2 linked regions of the Homo sapiens genome follow. The protein of the gene in region 1 interacts with the protein of each later gene in a pairwise test. Each region holds a gene or a part of one and is shown in the gene's direction. Other genes may lie near its edges.

Region 1 (3,903 bases):
TTGTGGTCTTTCACGCCATTGCAGTCAGCTGGGGCTGGGATAATCTGGAGGGCTGTCTCCTGTGTCTAGCGGTTGATGCTGGCTGTCAGCTGGGACCTTAGCTGGGGTGGTCAGTTGGAATACCTATGGGGGTCCTGTCCATGTAGCAGTGTCCTGTCCATATAGCAGGGTCCTAGGAGTCAGCATCTTAAGAGGACCAGGTGGAAACTACTGCCTTTTATGAGTTAGTCTCACAAGTCACATAGCATCTCTTCCCAGAACCAAAGGGAGGGAACATAGACCCTCAGCTCTGGAGGCAGGAGTGTCTTTATCACTTGTAAGAAGAGCATATGGAATGGGATATGTGCGGTCATCTCTGGAAAATGTCACACTTCACTCTCTTGCTGCTGCGTTGGCCATCTTTCTCCCTGATTTCGGTAATAGTGCAAGCAGTCTTCCATCCAGCCACTTGAACCTCATACATGTGCCAAGCACTGTGGTGGGCACAGAGGTCATAGAGTCTTTTTTCCTAAGGAGGAAGGTGGGAGTCAGGTCAGCGTGGCCACAGATTCTGTTACAGCGTGGAGAGAGTGCTGTGGGAGTGTAGTCATAGGGAGGCCTGGCTCTGTCTGTGATGTTACAGAAGGAGTCACCTGAAGTGGCCTGAAAGGATGTGTGGGTGGCTGGCAGGTGGCGCTGTGGGTCAAATTCCAGGATGAGGGACCAGCTGGAGCAGAGACACAGCAGCGTCCAGGTATATGCTTACTGGGGAAAAAGCAGCCTGCTGAGGCCAGAGTGCAGGGTCCATGGGGTTAGTGGTTGGAGGTAAGGTTGAAAAGGGATGTTTCAGACAGTCTGTCTGAAGGGCTTTGGATGTCATCATAATGAGTTTGAGTTTGAGTTTGTGGGCAGTGCAGCCTCTGATGGTTTTTAAAGCAAGTTAATGTCGTGACCAGGTGTACTTGTCAGGAAGGATGCGCTGTTGCTGTTGGGAAGGTTTGTGAGAGGGAAGCAAGATTAGTGACAGGTGGACCAGCTGGGAAACTACATCAAGAGTCCAGACTTAAAACAGTGTTTCCTACGAAGGAATGAGTTCAGGTTAAAGGGCTGGAGGGCTTGACATGGGATGCTAGCAGTCAATGAGTAACTTTGTACTTCCATTTTCATAGTTTTGAAGTTCTTGGTCCTAGATGTATTTCAGAATTGAGAATTTTTTGGATTTTGAAAAGATGATCTGGTGAATTTACTCTGTAGTGGAAGATCAGAAGCAGCATGGCATAAGCCACCATGTTTATTTCTGTAGCAAAATGTATGAATAGCCACAGCAGGAGAGAGAAAAGACTATAAATAGCCCCATATTAGATCAGATCAGATTTTACCAAATGAGGCTGGATGAGGTTTTACTGCCAATTGAGTTTAGAAAACTTCTGTGTTTTAGTGCTTCTTGGATTTGGCAGTTACAGTTGAGGAACTGTGGATGTTTTTAGATCCCAGGCACATCTGCTGAATGTTGAGAGCCCTAGCACAGCGGCTTGGCAGTGCTGGTGGAGCCAATCCCTGTCTTCATGTAGCTTGCAGCTGAGGGGGCCTGAGAGAAGTTGAGCAAGTGGTTGCGCTTGTTGCTGTTGGTGAAGGGTAGGTGGACCTTACATGGTCCCAGGCGTCAAGGAAGGCATCTTGGCAGAGACACGAATCAGAGTGTGCCAGGTGAAGAAGATAGGGAAGAGCAGAGCTGGCACATGGGCACATGCAAAGACCCCGACGGTAGGCTTGGCTGTTGGGGTACCAGACGGGAGTGTGGTAGAGTGGAGCAAAGAAAATGGGGAGAAAGGAGTGAAATAACGGCCGATATTTACGTTGTCATGCCGGCACTGTTCTAAACACCTAACATGGCTCATCTCATCCGATCTTCACAGCAACCCAGTTTGAGTCTCAGAAATGTGGCAAAACGTAGGGTGATGCCTCTGGGCTGTCTGGCTTGCCTTTGTTGCTGCTGCACTCTCCTGATGGTGGCCTGAGCAGTGCTTCCTGGAGAAGCAGGTCACCGCTGCTGGCCAAGGTCTGGGCTTGATCATCCTTTTGGGCACAGCCAGTTGTGAGAGGGTGTATGGCTCCTGGTTCATGTGTGTGCACACAGCACTAACTTCCAGGCAGAGCTGAGGATCCTATCCCAGGAACTACGTGGATAAACAGTAGGAAAATAGCACTGGGGCCCAGGCTGAGCCTAAGGAGGTGGGCTGGAACTAGGGGTGTCATGTCCTCTTATGGCAACAGGAGCAAGTTTGAAGCACAGGGCTGTGGGGTGGAGAACAAGGGCCCAGGGATTGATTAAGGTGGAGGCCAGGGCTTGGCCGGGGCAGCTTTTCCTGTGGGCTCTGCAGCCACTCCATGTGTGTGCAGACTTGCCAAGTAAAAACTCAGTCAGAAGACTGGTTTGCTCTGCATGGCTTAGAAGGGTGGGGCAGGAGGTCCTAAGCATCAGGTAGTGGGTGTGGGCCACCAAATTCTGATGTCTGGAGAAGAGTAAAAAGGCATCTAAAGGGTGCAGAAGTTATCTCAAGGGTCCCAGGAGGCTTTGCCATAAGGGCCTGCAGGTCATTGATGAGTCAGGGACGGGCTATCCCTCTGGGCCCCCCCCCCCTTTTTTTTTTTTTTTTTTTTTTTGGTGGGGGATGGAGTCTTGCTTCATCATCCGGGCTGGAAGGCAGTGGTGCCATCTCAGCTCACTGCAACCTCCGCCTCCCAGGTTCAAGGGATTCTCCTGTCTCAGCCTTCTGAGTAGCTGGGATTACAGGCACGCACCACCACACCCGGCTAATTTTTGAATTTTTATTTTAGTAGAGATGGGGTTTCGCCATGTTGGCCAGGCTCCTGACCTCAGGTGATCCGCCTGCCTTGGCATCCCAAAGCGCTGGGATTACAGGCTTGAGCCACCAAGCCCAGTGGGGCCCCACCCTTCTAAGCCATGCAGAGCAGCACTTCACTGAATAGAGTTCAGTCCCTCTTCTCCATCCCCATCCTGTTATATAAAGTCTTTTTCTTGCACAGTCATTTAGGAGGTGGGAAGTTGGGAGACAGGGAATCCTGGCCATTAGATTGGAGGGAAAGTTCCAACATGGACAACATCCTGAGGGGAGAGCGAAGAAGAAACTGAAACTCTTCTGGGCCCAGTGGCTCACACCTGTAATCCCAGCACTTTGGGAGGCTGAGGAGGGTGGATCACTTGAGGTCAGGAGTTCAACACCAGCCTGGCCAACATGGTGAAAGCCCGTCTCTATTAAAAATACAAAAATTAGCTGGGCGTGGTGGCAGGCACCTGTAATCCCAGATACTCGGGAGGCTGAGGCAAGAGAGTCGCTTGAGCCTGGGAGGCAGAGGTTGCAGTGAGCTGAGATCATGCCACTGTACTCCAGCCTGGGCAACAGACAGAGTGAGACTCTGTCTCAAAAAAAAAGAAAAAAAACTGAAACTCTTTTGTGCATCACTCTTTTCTTCCACATAAACTTTCTTAAAAATCAAATATGGGGATATGGCCCACAGCTCTGAGTAGCTTCATCCATCTGTATGGCCCCAGCTGGGCACAGCAGTAAGGCCAACTGAAACGACGTTTGCCCTGAATTTCTCGGTCACTTGACAACATGTATCTAATTGATACATAATATTTGAGCCCTGATATAATAGAATTTAATTGCACAGTTACATGGAAACAGACTTGACGTTTCTGAGAAGACTGATGTCCTGGCGTGGTGGGGGTGGTTGGTTTCTAGGAAGAAGACAAGTGGTTGGTGGTGAATGCTGGCAGGGGCTGGTGAAGTCTCCCCAGGAGGGAGACAGAATCCATGTCTCTTTAGAGGCCCTTCAGGATCAGCCCTTTTATACCAGATCTGCTGGTTTGAGAGCCCAGAGCCTCAGAGGTTAGATCTG
Region 2 (3,903 bases), on another chromosome or scaffold:
CACATCTGTTAGTCCTTCTGAGTGAGGCTTGGCCAGAGAAGCCCGTGTCCCTTGTGGCTCTGCTGCCCTGGCCAGGCCTTCGCTGAAGCTGCCTGACTCCATCTTCCCTTTCTAGCCGTTTATGAGGAAGCATTTCCGCAGCCTGGCGGCGGATATGTCCCTGCTCCTCCCACCCTCCTGCTTCACCCCTGCCCTGCCCTGCCCTGCCCTGCCTTGCCCTGCCCAAGGCCTGGGCCTCCCTGAAGCCAGGTTCTCCCTTGCCCAGGGAGGCCAGTCATTCTTTGCTGGGGGTGTGGTTGTACCTAGGTGCAGGATGAGGTAGCTGCGCTGGGAGGCTCTCCTGGGCTGGAGCAGAGCCTGCGTCCTGCAAGCGGGGAAGGCAGGAGTGGGGAAGGCCCCTGGCCTGCACCAGGCCCCCATGAGTACTGGCTGGGCTGTCACTGGGTATTTAGTTTTGGGGGTGACCAGAGAGAGAGGAAATCCTGGAAAGGATTTCACTTTTCCTAGGGAAGGTGAAAAGAACAGCTGTGGAGGGCGGATGTCGCTCAGAGGTCCAGGGTGCGGCTCAGTGGCCAGCGTGGAGGCTGCCACGGCCCTTGGGGGGCAGAGGTGGGCTGTGGAGGGCACGGGGTGGTGACTGTGGAGCCCGGGAGGGGCTGGAGGGGAAGGAGCCTGTGACAGCCTTGGGCTTCCAGACGATGGAGGTGGAGGGGCTGCTCCCTCCTACCACCTGTGACCTGGAAGCCAGAGCTCCCCTGGTTGAGGAAGTGGCTGAGTTAGCTGGGATGGCTCTGCCCATATGTATGGCCTGTGGGCTGTCCCCGTCCTGACAGTCTTGGCCTGAGGTGTGGGGGCAGCGGATGGGCCGGAGCTTGGGCCTGGGCTGCTTGCTGGGCAGGGCTGCAGACCTCGGTGCCCAAGTGCTCCCTCAGTGGCCTCCTGAGTCTCTGACCTTGGGCTCAGCCCCCAGCTGTGGGCCAAGTGGCACTGCTGGGGTGGGTGTGGTGGCAGGCAGAGTCTCCGGGCACCTTCTCAGGCCTTTCTTCCACAGGGGAGGCGAGGGCTGGCCCTGGCCATTGGGTTTGCTGGGAATGGCCCTGGGAGGTCCTGGTGAACTGTCCCTAAGCCAGGCAGCTCCCCTGTGGGGAGTGGACACCCTGGGACAGCCAGAGCCTGGCTGGAGCTGCTTTGGGGCCACCTCGCCCTGCGCTGAGCATGGCTTCAGGCCCTCAGCCCTCTGAGGAAGCCCTGCGTCTCCCCTTTTCCTGGCGAGGCCTGGCCTTCCAGCGGGGTGGTGGTCTGGGGTTGTTCCTGGGCGTGGATGGTGCCTTGAGGCCACCATGTGCGCAGAGGGCAGCTTGGTGCCCTAGGGCCAGCCCCCTGTGACACTGCCTTTGGGGGCTACCTGGGAGGGAGAACTGGGACCTGCAGGATGGGTGCTCGTGACTGGGGAGCCCATCTGGGTTCAGATCCCAGCCACGCCTTTCCCGGCTGGGAGTCCCTGGACACACCCTCAGCTTCAGCCTCCTGTAAAGTGCCTGTGGGGACACAGGGAGGGCGAGGATGGCCTTCTCCCTGGGCAGCTCAGAGCCCTGCTGCCAGCCCCCTCTGTCCTTGGTGAGGCGGGAGCCCCGCGGCCTCTACTGTCCCAGGGCCCAGCTCTGAGTGGATGACAGTGGCATGACTGGCCACTTTCACTGCAGGACTGGAGTCGCCTTAAGGGAGTGCTCTTGGAATTAGTCAGTTCCCTAATTTCGCCAGTGGCCATGGTCCCTCCCTGGCCGCGTGGCTTATTGCACAAGAATGGGGGAGGGGCGGCTAGAGAGAGCCGGTCAGGACCAGAGCGGTTGAGAAGGTTGAAACCCACCTCACCAACTCAGGTGGGCTCTTCCGGGTTTGGAAGGGAGGAGAACTCGAGGCTGTGGGGACCGCAGGTGTTCCGGGGCAGGGGTTCCCCTTCTGCCCTCCAGTGCTGGGGACAGGACTGCCCTGCAGCTTGGGGAGTCTTGACCTAGAATCTGGATTGTGTTTCTCAGTTCAGAAGATTTGGGGTTTTAAAAAGTAAATGATGCCAACACTCCTTTTGAGGTCTAGGGCAGTACTGCAGTTAAAACTTTAATATTTCTGCAGCAAGACATGAATATTCAGATAAAGTAGGATAAATTACGACTATAAATAGCCACACACCAGTTCAGGTCACATGTTGCTGCCAGGTGAGTTTGCTGTCAAGTGACAGCGAGTTCTGCCTTCAGCGCCTCTTGGCGTTTGAAGTTGTGGGTACGGCTGTGGAATCCTGGGGGGTAGGGAATGCTGCCCACCCTTAGGCTGACCCCAGAGCCAGAGGTGAGGGCCGAACTCTCCTGGCCAGCCCTCGGGCCTTCGAAGCCCGTTCAGAGCTCTCAGGCCCAAGTGCTCGTTCTCCCGGGCCGGGGTTCTCAGGTCTGGATCACAGCCTTCTGTTGCTGGCAGAGGCCTGAGCCTCCTGGGACAGCTGGATCTGTCCAGCTCCCGGGCGGCACTGCAGGGAAACAGGCTCGCTCTCCCCAGAGACCCGGGGGCCTTGGCCCTCCTACCCTCTCTTTAAGCGGTGTGGAGGTGGGCAGGAGGGTGGGGGTTGAATGGACCAGGGATAGGGAGGCTGCCTTAGGAGGTGCCGGAGTGGGTCCCTGGACTGAGGGGCTCAGGCCAGGGTGGCACAAACGGCCCAGCCCTGTGCTCTGGCTGAGGATGGGATGGGTCTGGACAGAAATTCCGTGGGTTGGAAGGAGGGTGTTTCCCTGTGCCTGGGAGGCCGTGGGGTCAGCACATTAGGTTTGGCCCATTGTGCTGCTTGCAGCCCCGGGGCTGGGAATCAAGGTGCTGGGAAGAGAGGCGCCGGGGCCTGGGTGGGCTGGGCTGGCGCTGCTGGAAATCCTAGCACTCAGGTGGGCCGGCGCCCTGGCCCGTGGCAGTGGGAGTGCAGCAAGAGTGAGCAGCCTTCCTGCACTTCTCAGCTCTGACAGAGTAGGTGGGTTTTGGGTCTGGATGGAGAATTAGGAAGCAGGAGGGCGCTGCTGCTCTTGGACTTGGGTCCCAGGCGCGAGCAGCAGCTGCAGGTGGGAGGCTGGTGTGGGCGGGGCCCCCAGGCAGCACTGTGAAGCCCCACCCCTGCCCATTGCACCATCACACCTGGATGTCTCTGCTGCGCCCCATGGGCGGGCTCCAGCCGGGCTCCCCACCCACACCCCTTTGCCCAGCCTCCTCCCAGGCATCTCTGGGCCTTTGAACAGGCAGTCAGCTCTGCCTGCAGCCCTGCCTCTCAGCAGCTTTGGTCCTGAGGTGAGGTGCTCAGATGGTCACTGATTGGGCTGGCTGAGGGGTGCCCGGTGACACTGGGGACCACTCTGGGGGGTGCGGGCCTCTCCCCTAGAAGGATTTCTCAGCCGGTTCACCCTCCCTGTCTGCTTTTTCATGGGACATTTTCTAACCAGAATATACAGCCAGTGTGTTTCCTGGGATTTGACCGCAGATGCCAGGAAGAAAAGGGAAGAGGAAGCTCCCCTGAGAGGCCTGAGGCCACTGGCTCCCTCCAGCTCCCCCGGAACCTGTCATGGCCATCTGTGGGGACACAGCTGGTGCTTGGCCTTCCCGAGGCTCCCCCACCTCGACTGTGTGGTCTTGGGAGCTGTGGCACCTGGGGGAGAAGGTCCTGGAGCCAGGCAGGGCGTGCTGCAGTCGGCAGGGCTGGGCGGAGGTGTCCTGCCCAGTCTGGACTGGCAGGGGCAGCCCTGGGCAAGGCTGAACAAGTGTGGTGGCCTGACGACCTTCTGGGGCTTAAATAGGGGACACATTTGTAAAAGCCCACACAGGAAGTAGAAACTTTCCTGGCAGACTCTGGTCTTCTGCTTGGCTTTGCCTTGGAGC

Evidence for each region.
Region 2: the proteins of MGAT1 (region 1) and BRI3 interact in binary tests that used the Homo sapiens proteins (3 or more experiments, as listed by UniProt).

What each region holds. Positions count from the first base shown.
Region 1 is NC_000005.10:180,796,147-180,800,049, reverse strand, and holds part of MGAT1 (alpha-1,3-mannosyl-glycoprotein 2-beta-N-acetylglucosaminyltransferase), read left to right. Parts: intron 1-3,903. UniProt on the Homo sapiens protein: Initiates complex N-linked carbohydrate formation. Essential for the conversion of high-mannose to hybrid and complex N-glycans.
Region 2 is NC_000007.14:98,284,661-98,288,563, forward strand, and holds part of BRI3 (membrane protein BRI3), read left to right. Parts: intron 1-3,903. UniProt on the Homo sapiens protein: Participates in tumor necrosis factor-alpha (TNF)-induced cell death. May be a target of Wnt/beta-catenin signaling in the liver.